Homo sapiens: one gene and its partner. The protein of the gene in region 1 interacts with the protein of each later gene in a pairwise test. Each region holds a gene or a part of one and is shown on either strand. Other genes may lie near its edges.

Region 1 (4,764 bases):
CTGCCTGGTTCAACAAGGTGGTTCTCGCCTGGGGTCTCATGCAGTTGCTCTAAGACACCAGTTGGGGCTAGAATCATCTGAAGGCTCACTTGGGCTGGATACACACGTTGGCCTCTTCACTCATGTGCCTGGGCCTCGGAGGGGATGGAACCGCCAGGGACTGGCAGGGCATATCTACCCATCTAACATTTCAGTGGGTCTGATTCTACCACCACCACTACCCTCCCCTTTCCTGCCCCAGTAGGCTCTGAAACCCCCAACATGCCTCTTAACAAGACTGAAGTACCTTATGTTTGAAAGGATTGATGCTGGAAGGACAGGGCTGAGGTGCAGAAGGCCTGGAGCCAGGTGTTCAGGGGAGAGTGTTTGTCCTTCTGCTTCAAATCACTGGACAACCTTCAGACTCTGAGCATAGCCAGCTGCTACTTGGCACCCCTGGGTTCAACAAAGTCCAGCAGAGTTCTCTTCCAAGGACTTTTAAAAAAGCATTCATGTGTACTGCACATCTCTAGTGTAGTAATCACCACCACGTTTATATTTAGTAGCAACCCTTCTTCCAGACTAGTGAGGCGTGAACTTGGGAAGTGCTGTTGTAACTTCATTCACTCACAAAGACTTAGCATCGACAATGTGCCAGGCACTGTGCTAGGTATTCATGAGACAACAGCAGGGAGCTGTTTTCTGGGAGCTCTTTGAAGGCATCCCATGAAGAGTGGGAACAATTTGTGTTGGAATCCTTCAGTTGGGCAAGGGACTGGCTCTAGCAGGACTGGATTTAGGTAATATTTTAGGAAACAGCTCACTCTCCTAAAATCTGTGCTTTTTGTTTCAGGCTGTCTCTTCTGTGTTCCCTTACTCTCTAATCTGGCAATTGCTGACTTGGAAATTAAGACCTATCTCAAATACCACACGTCCGCCGTCCCTTCTTAGATCTTCCACCAGTTACTTACTACCCTCAAGCCCATTTCCTCACCATTTAATTGGGATGAGGATTACTGGTGGTTAAAACTGTAGAGAGTGACTCTTACATAGAATACGGAATCTTACATAGAATATGCTGGTGAACTAGCAAAACCGACAAACAGAAATTTAGAAAGCATTTTGATAACTTTAGTATCCAGATGCTAAGAAGTCCAATCTTAGTGACTAACATTATATAACCTTAAATTTTTAAAGTTCATTGTATGTTTGGAATGTAATACTTAAGGTAAGGACTAGTCTGACTACAGGTGCTTATTAAACATGTACAACTGTACGGCGGGGACAAGATTTGGGCAACAAGTAGCTCCCACAGTGGCATCAGAGATACTGGCTTAGTGCAGAGCAGAAAACTGACAAAAACTCTGGTTAAGGCATGGTAGGGAACTGTTAACACAGTTATCTAGAAGCAAGCTGTAAATTGAGTTTCCAAATCAAAAATTTCTATATGTTAAACTTTTGGGATATGCCCTGATGTTTTTCTTTAGAAAGATATTTTGTTGGTCATGCTGAGGATATTTGTGTAGGATTGTTCACTGTTAACTTTCTTTAGAGTGGAAAAGATTCAGAGGATTTTCTTTATACAGTCTGTAAGTCCTAAATATATATTTTATATAAAATTGGAAGAAATCAGTACTTTCATTTTCAGAGTAATTGAGGCACATCTGAAATTTTGAGTCAGCTGTGTGTGTGACCATCCGTACAGCCCATGACCGACACACCAGAATGTCCTTGAAGGGTCCCAACTGGAGTCCTTGCAAAAGACTACACTCTAAACAGCTGCCATCCAGGAACTGCAATCCAGACCCAAATTGAGGTTTCCGAAGTTTGACAGGTATCCTGTGAATCCATGTAATAAATATTTTTGTCTTCTCCACAGAATGTGAATGGCATAAAGTATCACGCTAAGAATGGTCACAGAACACAGATTCGTGTCCGCAAACCATTCAAGTGTCGCTGTGGGAAGAGTTACAAGACAGCTCAGGGCCTGCGGCACCACACAATCAATTTCCATCCCCCGGTGTCGGCTGAGATTATCAGGAAGATGCAGCAATAACATGCTGGTCATAACTGTGCCAAGAAATCCTCACCAGCAGTTGCTGATTTTGAAAACAGCCACCTTTTTTCAGGGGAAGCATTCAGCAACCCTTTAAAGAAAAAGAATTAAATGCATGCTTTAAATTTTTTCTGTAATTTTGGAATGATGTATCTTTGTAGAGTTAATGATTTTGTACATTTGCACATGTAATCATCATACCCATTTTCATTACTTTGATATAAGGTGCTAAACAAAAAAAGCTCTAGGTTCTTCAGCACATTTCCCCCAAAACAAAATAAAATTGAGGGCATGTTGCATATTGTTGAATTGTATTGCGGTGGTATCAACCTGGGGGGAGGAGGGGCTGGCACTGAGATTTTTTTTTCAAGATTGTAATGTGATTGAAGTTTTCAACACATCAACTCACATATGTTCAAAACCAAAATAATACCTTCATTATCAAACTGGTTACCATGCCTTACATAATGGAGTTAGTATTTGTGAGTAGAAAGACTTTAGGTAATGGAAATATAAATAAGAAAGAATGTTTAACATAATATGCTAAAAATATTTTCATATTTAAATAACATACGTAAAGGTGTGCTTTCTGTGTTTTATATTATCTTGCAAATCCTTTTGCCCTTTAAAAAGCTGAAAATCTTGCCATCTGACTTACTAGTCATTTTAGTGTTATAAATGGCATTTTGTACAAAATAGTCTATTCAGTTCGTTCATTCATTTAACACACATTGATTGAGTGCCTGCTGGGTACAAGGGATTCAATTTATGCCTATTGATATCTGCGGACCAAGATACCCATTTAGTGAAATACTTTTTTCCCTGAAATCTGTTAGAAAAGACTTTGAAATACTTCAGTGCAAAGTGTGTGTGTGTGAAGTTTAGTTATATCTTCATCTTCAGATGAAGTTTTAAAGCACTTTGTAGTTCTCTATTGCCAACAATTTAATGTTTATGTGTTGCCAATTCTTGCAACCACTGCCCTACCAAACCTGTGGGTTGCAAATCAGAACTAAAATTCTAAGCACGTTTCAAAGATGAACACTTTTGTTAAGACCCCTATTGCCTCTTCTTCATGCTCATTTTTTACTTTTTTTAAAAGGTACTTTTCTCATCACATTGTAGAGAGGTCTGCATTCTCATTGGAAATGTCTGTTTAGCTTTATAAAACAAACACTTTGCTGAAATAGGAAAATGAGCCTTATTGACAATTAAGTGCTTCTTGCAGCAGGTGGTCAAAGAAAAGCATGACTAATACGACCTATTAGAGTAATCTACATCTGGACCATTCCTTAAGTTTTTCCTCACCGACAGTACCATCATGCCTTGAGTGTTCTTTTCTCCCAAGTGCTATTCCTTAAACACGAGAGTTTACCAGTTGCCTAATAATGCAATAAAAAATGCTTTGAGATAGCTAACTGCCCATAAAACAAACTCAAATTGCTTATAAAGTTTCTTCCCATGTTCCCATTTGATGAAAAGTCTTACATCACATATAACTGGGAAGCAGGGGTCCCTCCTCAATTTTCAGACATTTTGAAAGGATGACAGTTCTGTTTGTTAGATGAGTAAACCTCTATATTCATAAGTTCTAAAATCCTTCATTATGAGGGATTCAAAGTATTTATAAAAACACTGCCCTCTAAAAATTTCCTCAGATCTGAAGTATGGTCTTGGTCCTGAATATACAGTGTTATCCTATGTTTAAAAGGGTGATCCAGACATGAGACGCAACTAGTTGGTGCATAAGAAGGCCCCACTTGGCTATTTCATATCTACCTACAATTGACCAAAAAAAATTTTTTAGGCCAGCAATTATTATTTAGCTTCGCTCTTTCTAGTGCAAGAAACTGCAGGCTGGATCAGTAGTTCAACAGCTAAACAGTCATAAAATAGTCATTGTGCATGTTAAATTTCTTTCAATGCTTTCAAAGATAAATTCCAATTTCTATTTACTTATTCATTGTGACAGTATTACTAAACAGGTAAGGATGGGAATATTTTGTTATACTGTGTATAGTGAATGTATTGTACTGTGTCTGTGAAAACTGTGCTTTAAATTATATTTTCATATGTTTTGTTGGGGACAGAGCACATTAAGTCTGAAAGCAACAGAGGTTTGTTTTAGAACTGAAGGCAATTTAATCAAAATTCCTGTCAAGAAAAGCTGCTTATAAATGTAAATGAAATCACATTTAAAATAAACTGCCTCTGACCCAAAAATAAATATGGCTCTTTATTTTCCTTAGTGTCCATTATGAAAACCAGTATCAAGTTTACCATGGAAATTAATATATCCATTCAGTTCCTCATTCTAAGGCTGTTCAGTTGATGCATGTAGACTTTATTCCCTTACATTTTTGCTTAGATTAGATTAGGCTGTATTACTTTTCTGTCAATAACAAATTAAGCTTGGACTTACTTACTTAAACTATTTTAAAATAAGTTCTAGGCTAGTAAGATGAACAGTGTCTACTACTATAATAAATATTCCAAGGATACTTTTGGATTAACATGGTCCATAATTATTAACTCCAACAAAAATGCTCCCATTGTTGAACATATTTTACCTAAGTATATAACCTATCTGGAAGCTGAAAGTCTCCAAAGCTATTGCTTCCTAGGACTGCTGTGTCCTAACAGCTGGCATATGAATGCCTCATACTGGTTTGCCCTAGACTCAAAAAACTTTTTAAAGGATTCTAACAATATACAAACTCTGCTTCCAC
Region 2 (7,045 bases), on another chromosome or scaffold:
AAAGATAATAGACTTCTCTCCAAAGAAGATATATAAACAGCCCATAAGCATATGAAGAGATGCTCAACATCATGAGAAATGCAAATCAAAATCACAATGACATACCACTTCACATCCACTGGGATGGCTACAATCAAAAAGATGGATAATAACAAGTGTTGGTAAGGATGTGGAGAAATGAGAACCTTCCTACACAGTTGGTGAGAATGTAAAGTGGTACAACACAAATGTCCATCAATTGACTAATGGATAAATAAAATGTGGTATAGCCATACAAAGGTGTATTATTAGGCTGGGCGTGGTGGCTCACGCCTATAATCCCAGCACTTTGGGAGGCCGAGGCAGGCAGATCACCTAAGGTCAGGAGTTCGAGACCAGCCTGCCCAACATGGTGAAACCTCATCTCTACTAAAAACACAAAATTGGCCAGGAGCGGTGGCTCACGCCTGTAATCCCAGCACTTTGGGAGGCCGAGGCGGGCGGATCGTGAGGTCAGGAGTTTAAGACCAGCCTGACCAACATGGTGAAACCCTATCTCTACTAAAAATACAAAAATTAGCTGGGTGTGGTGGCACGCACCTGCAATCCCAGCTACTCAGGAGGCTGAGGCAGGAGAATCGCTTGAACTCGGGAGGCGGAGGCTGCAGTAAGCCGAGATCGCACGATTGCACTCCAGCCTGGGCGACAGAGCGAGACTCCATCTCAAAACAAAACACACAAAATTAGCTGGGTATGGTGGCACATGCCTGTAATCCCAGCTACTCGGGAGGCTGAGGCAGGAGAATTGCTTGAACTCAGCAGGCAGAAGTTGCAGTGAGCCGAGGTGGCACCACTGCACTCTAGCCAAGGAAACAAGAGCGAAACTCTTGTCTTTAAAAAAAAACAGAGGTGCATTATTTGGCAATAAAAAGGAATGAAGTACTGATACATGCTATATCATGATGACCCTTAGAAACATCATGCTAAGTGAAAGAAGCCAGCCACAAAAGACCATATATTGTATGATTTCCTTTATATGAAATGTACAGAGTTGACAAAACCATAGAGTCAGAAAGCAGATTAGTGGTTGGTAGGGTTTGAGAAGAGGGGGAAAGGAGGAGTGACTACATAATAGGGTTTGGGGTTTATTCTGAGGTGACGAAAATATTCTAAAACTAGATAGTGGGGATGGTTTGTACAACCTTGTAAATATACCAAAAACCACTACATTATACACTAAAAGGGTGAGTTTTATGGCATGTGAATTATATTTCAATTAAAAAAGAAAGCCAGGGGTAGTGGCTCACGCCTGTAATCTCAGCACTCTGCAGGGACTAAGGTGGGTGAATTGCTTGAGTCCAGGAGTTCAAGACCAGACTGGGCAACATGGTGAAACACCGTCTCTACAAAAAAAATACGAAAAATTAGCCAGGCGTGGTGCTGTGCACCTACAGTCCCAGCTACTCGGAAGGCTGAGGTAAGAAGATTGCTTGAGCCTGGGAGGTGCAGGTTGCAATGAGCCAAGATCATACCACTGTACTCCAGCCTGGGCAACAGAGCAAGACCCTGTCTCAAAAAAAAAAAGAAAAAGAAAAAGAAAAGAAAGCCAGAGATATACTCAAACCAAGATATGTACACACAAGGTTATGTCTTGATTACAAAATGAAAAACTAGAATCAGTAGAAAAGGTCATAAACAGAAATGATTAAATCACAACAGACACATAGAATACTGTGCAGCTACTGTAAGATCCTCATTAACAGAAAGGTATGTTGAAGGAAATGAAGTTGAAGAAGAGTGAAATATAAAAAAGACAGAACAATACATATGGTTTGTACCAAAGCCAATGTCCTCGTTGTGATACTGTACCGTAGGTATGTATGACATAACCACTGGGAGGACCTGGGCGAAGGCTATGTGGGAGCTCTGTAATAGCACTGTACTTCCTTCATAGTAAATTATTTTAAATGTATAATTACTTCAAAGTAAAATTGGAAAACAGTTTCTGAAAGTAGCTTCCTGTGGGTGCTTTGCATATGTTTTATTATTCGTATCAAACTTCTGTGGGGGGTATTGTTGTTTCCATTGTACACAGGAAGGAATGGGGTAGGACACAGTCTGCCTCTGAAGCTCTTTCTCTTGATTCCTGAAATACCATACAGCTTTGTGGTCATTCTCCTCCAAAGTGACAATAACTAATTCCTAACCATTAACATTTATTGAATGCTCACTGTGTACCAAGAAATTTACAAGTGCAGGAAAGAAGCATGTGGCTACGAAGAGCACTGTCAGACTCTGAACCCAGTTCTAGCCAGTTCTGGAGTCTTGGTTCTCATTCCCAGTCTGTGTGTGGATGGCCCAATAGAATGGTTGCTGTGAATCCCTTGGTAATCTGTTTTTAAGGTTATCTGGGCCTTACTTTCAGGCTTACGCTTTCTCTGCATTTGACCATGCAGTCAGAGCCACTGTTCTAGAATGTGTGCTGCTGATAAGCTAAGCCCACGATGCGTGATCCATCAGCTCCCATCATGCATGTGGCCCCTGCCCAAAGACAGAAGGTGCAAGGCCCAGCCTGAGGACCAAGGCATGCAGGGCAGCTCTCCATGACAGGCAAGGGCTCTAAATTTTGTCTTCTCTTTCCCAAAAGAGGATGCCCTGTAATGCCCTGAGTACACCCATGAATGAGACTGTGAACAGATGAGGAGGAAGCCTGCAGGCCTTGCTCTGGTTCTAATGGTTGCAGCAATGCCAGTGTTCTCAATTACCAAGTCACCCTCTTAGAGTTGTGGCTTGCTGCTACTACTTCCTCATTACTTGGTTTACATCAGGAGCACCAGGATGAGACAAACAGTGAGTTCCCTGGCCTGGAAAAAATCCCCCTCCTTGGTTATCTTCACAGGAGCCAGCAAGTCTCCCCCTTTTGGACTGACGAACATCTCTGTCCACAAGTTAAATCCCTATGACTGATCTGCTCTAGCAAAGTTTTGGAACTGATAGATTCCTGGCTGAGCTTCCTCCTGAAGATCATCTAATAAAAAGGAACCCGGGGCTTTTGCAAAAAGGCCATCTGATAAGTATTTCTTTCCTTGGCTAGTAGTTTGCCAATGTGTATAAGAGAAAAAGAAAACTATAACAGAAAAGAGAACCACTGAATGTCCACCAAATTGACATCTAGACTGACATGTTACAGTGATTATGACCAGCCAGCTCTGATCTGAGAAGCCATCAGCATCTCTAAAACAAATCACAAGATAGCTATCACAACAATAAGGAGACCGAGACATAGGTCATGCTTTTGATGTGGTCTCTGAAGGCCAGGAAGAAAGTGGTGCACACAGTTAGAGAAGCAGCCTGCAATGTCAACATAAAGGATGAGAGAGAGCATGAGTAGAGAACGTCACCTTAGAATCCGTGGCCAGGAGAACTGTACCATCCTCACGTATCAAAGGCTGCTGGATGTTCACAAGCATCCCTGGATCAAGAAGACCTGTTTGTCTATTTAAGACATAAAGAAACTCAGAGTAGCTTCCAACATTTTATGCACAGTATGATCATGCTGCATTTACCTGTCCTTCCACATTTGTGAAGCTGTCTGAATAGTAGAAAAGCTCTAAGTAGACTCAGCCGCTTAGTGACTAAGCAGAACCCCCACCCCTGTCTCTCTGCAATGAGATATACATAAAGTCAGGTTTACAGCTTGAGACAGGATGAAATGCAGATGCATCCCCCAGGGCTTTCCAGGATGACTGCAGACTGTGGCCATTCTGCCTAGAAAAGTTAACTTGATTTTCAGAAAATCAGCAAGGCATCCTCAACTCCAGCTCTCTCTCTGATACATTTTGGATTGCTTGTTTTCCCCTCTTTCCGTTCCTTTTAAAGTAAGTTCAATAGATTATATTAAAAAGAATATACAAATTAACTGTAGCACTGAGACCTTATCTCACCTTGGGCCTTTTGTGTGTACTGCAGAAATGCCCCAATCTTGAATCATAAAATAATTGTCTTCCGTATGAATGATGCCTAAATTGCAGGACATAATCTGAATTCAAGGCTAGGAGAATTTCTGACCCCTTCATAAATCAGGCATCCTCAGGCCTGTCCAGAGGTGTGACTGAGCAGCTCCAGAAGGGGCAGAATTAGGCAACACAACGCTGGAGGCTATGGCAGATGGGTGGGAAGCCACAACAGTGCCTGCTGTGGGACACGTCTGTGCCTCCTCCATCAGCTGCAAAGGCTGATTGCAGTGAGAACAAGGGACTGACCTTGCTCCATCTTTGTCTGCCACAAACGTGGGAGTAGCTATCAGGGGACTTCTCAGGTCTTTCCGGATATAGATTTTCTCAGTTGAAGCAGCACAATTGCTTGGTTTCTCCCGTTGCACATCGAAGGGCTTCCGTTCACTCTGCACAGCTTAAATCACAACATAAATATTTGTGTTTAGAGAAACAATTCCAATCAATAAAAACCACAAGGGAAAACCCCAAATCCATTACTGCAGGGAGGATGACTCTGGTGCTAGGTTCATCTAGCTCAGCTTTCACAGTGGACTTTTCGGCCAGAGAGAAGGAATAAAGCCAAACCATGCCATGTCAAATCTAGAGGCATAAAAAAGACCTCACGATGGGTGGTATTCCCTGCTAAAAAAAACTGCAGCACAGCACCTATGTGGCCTATGGAAGCACCCATGAGCCTTCTGGGCCATTTTATTAATTTTATGCTATTATTTTATGTTATTATTTTATTATTTTTTGTAGAGATGAAGCCTCATTATGTTGCCCAGTCTGGACTCATCCTGGGCTCAAGCAAACCACTCGCCCCAGCCTGCCAAAGTGCTGGAATTACAGGCATAAGCCACCGTGCCCAGCTGGTTTTTACTTCATGCTGCTAACAAAATAGACTCTTTCAAGGATAAAAAAATGCCCATCTTTGGGCCGGGGGTGGTGGCTCACGTCTGTAATCCCAGCACTTTGGGAAGCCGAGATGGGTGGATCACTTGCCCAACATGGCAAAACCCGGCCTCTATTAAAAACACAAAAATTAGCCAGGTGTGGTGGCAGGCACCTGTAATCCCAGCTACTTGGGAGGCTGAGGCAGGGAGAATTGCTTGAACCTGGGAGGCGGAGGCTGCAGTGAGCCAAGACGCGGCACCACTGCACTCCAACCTGGGCAACAGAGCAAGACTCTGCCTCAAAAAAAAAAAAAAAAAAAAAAGAAAGAAAAAGAAAAAAGAAATGCCCACCTTCAAGTGGGCCCTTAATAGAATGCATTTCCTATGCCACAATTTGTAGAGGAACCCTTCTAATTTCCAACTCAAGTCTGAATAGCTTCTGCAAACTGTTTAATGGGTGTCAATTTTATATTATGCTAGCAAACTCTCCTTTTAGCAGTCTAATGTAAGAGCAGATATGCATGTTAGAAGCAACTGAAGAAAATGAAAGCTTTTTAAAGACAAAACTGATGAAGGTCAGGGACTAATATTCAGATATGCTACTAATCAAACTGCTATCCAGTTGAATATTGTGTTTGCAGCTACAGCTGTGTTCACAAGAAAACTGATTTCAGTCATTGCTCTGAGTAAAAATATTCATCATTGAGAAAAAGGACAGCTTGGCAATGTGGGCCAGTCCCACACCAAGTCAGTGATTTATTTATTCACTTTGGGCAAAGAGCAGTATCATTAGATAAAATAAAAACATCACACCAGGCAGAAATTAGGTTGATATTTCTAATTTCTCAAAAAATACATTTCCATTTATTCTCCAGTGAATTTTGTGGATTCCTGTTCCCAGAAACGTCAACAGCAATACTGAAATATATTGGTTTTCAGAGTTCCTAGAAAACTATGCAAAAGATGACAGAACCATGCAGCATACTCAGCGGAAGCCTGCAGTCCTGGGTCCTCGGCCACCAGCCTTGCCATGCAAGTTGCATGCAAGTTGCATGCCTTGCTCTGCTAAGCTCCATTTTCCTACTGTGGCTTAAGCCTAACTCCACTCTCCTTGGATTTCTTTGTGCTGCCCATCTTGAGTCCTGGTCTTCATGTTTTCACCACTAGCTAGGGAAGTGACCTCCATGCTGACTGGTCCCTGAAAACCCCCAAAATTCTGTCTATGGGAGTGGAAAGGAGGGGCCTGAGACCTTCCCTGGCTGCCCCACACATCCAGGAGCAATAGCTTTCTCTTTAGAATCCCAGCTACACAGAGGCTTGGCAAAGGACCTTATCCCAAAAGAAAGTAGAGGGGCTAAGAAGACAGGGAGTAGGCTCATGTAATCCTCAGGAGCAATATATAAGTAAGGTGATTAAGTAGATCACAGATGAGGACCCTGTGGCTGAGAGGCTACGTGTATCCTCAGGCATCATAGCTCTCTCTTAGTGGCACACCTGGAGGTAGATTTGGTATCAGCTTTCCTCCAAAGCCTGTGTTCAACCCACTCCACTAAGCTGCCTCCTGATGCATCTGTAATAAGGCTTTCCACACACACAGCAGGAAGAGACCAACCCCTGCAGCGTTGGCTCTCAATCACCTGGCTGACCCATGAGGTAAACCAAAATGAAGCCTGAGTGCATATTTTTTTCTTAAAGTATTTTAAGGCCAGGTATAGAAACCTTATTTAATGGACTCATTTACTGTCTCCCTCCACATTAACTCATGTGGTTTTTAAATATTGTTACTCACATTCCATTTTCATGCCCATCTCTAAGCATTTTTTCAGCCGGCAAAACTGACAGCGGTTCCGGTGATGTTTATTGATGATGCAGTCTTGGTTGCTCCGGCAGCTGTAGGTCAAATTTTTCCTCACACTCCTTTTGAAGAAACCTTTGCAACCTTCACAACTGACAGCCCCATAGTGACGGCCTGAAACAGGAGAAAGAATACACAAATATTTTGTGACTATATTTGTGGATTCACCAAAGAGGTGATCTGTCAGTTCCTGTGCAAGTCTCATTGAAGTGATGGGTGCCATACACTGTTAGATGCCAACAGCCACGTGGCCTGAGCATTAAGCATACTGGCCACACCCTTCACGTAATTTCTCTACCATCTTTCAAGTAGCCTTATGAATT

The links.
Region 2: the proteins of JAZF1 (region 1) and NR2C2 interact in binary tests that used the Homo sapiens proteins (3 or more experiments, as listed by UniProt).

Annotation. Positions count from the first base shown.
Region 1 is NC_000007.14:27,830,071-27,834,834, reverse strand, and holds the end of JAZF1 (juxtaposed with another zinc finger protein 1), read left to right. Parts: intron 1-1,858; coding exon 1,859-2,035; 3' UTR 2,036-4,258; downstream 4,259-4,764. UniProt on the Homo sapiens protein: Acts as a transcriptional corepressor of orphan nuclear receptor NR2C2. Inhibits expression of the gluconeogenesis enzyme PCK2 through inhibition of NR2C2 activity.
Region 2 is NC_000003.12:15,020,544-15,027,588, reverse strand, and holds part of NR2C2 (nuclear receptor subfamily 2 group C member 2), read right to left. Parts: intron 6,837-7,045; coding exon 6,657-6,836; intron 4,390-6,656; coding exon 4,242-4,389; intron 3,475-4,241; coding exon 3,381-3,474; intron 1-3,380. UniProt on the Homo sapiens protein: Orphan nuclear receptor that can act as a repressor or activator of transcription.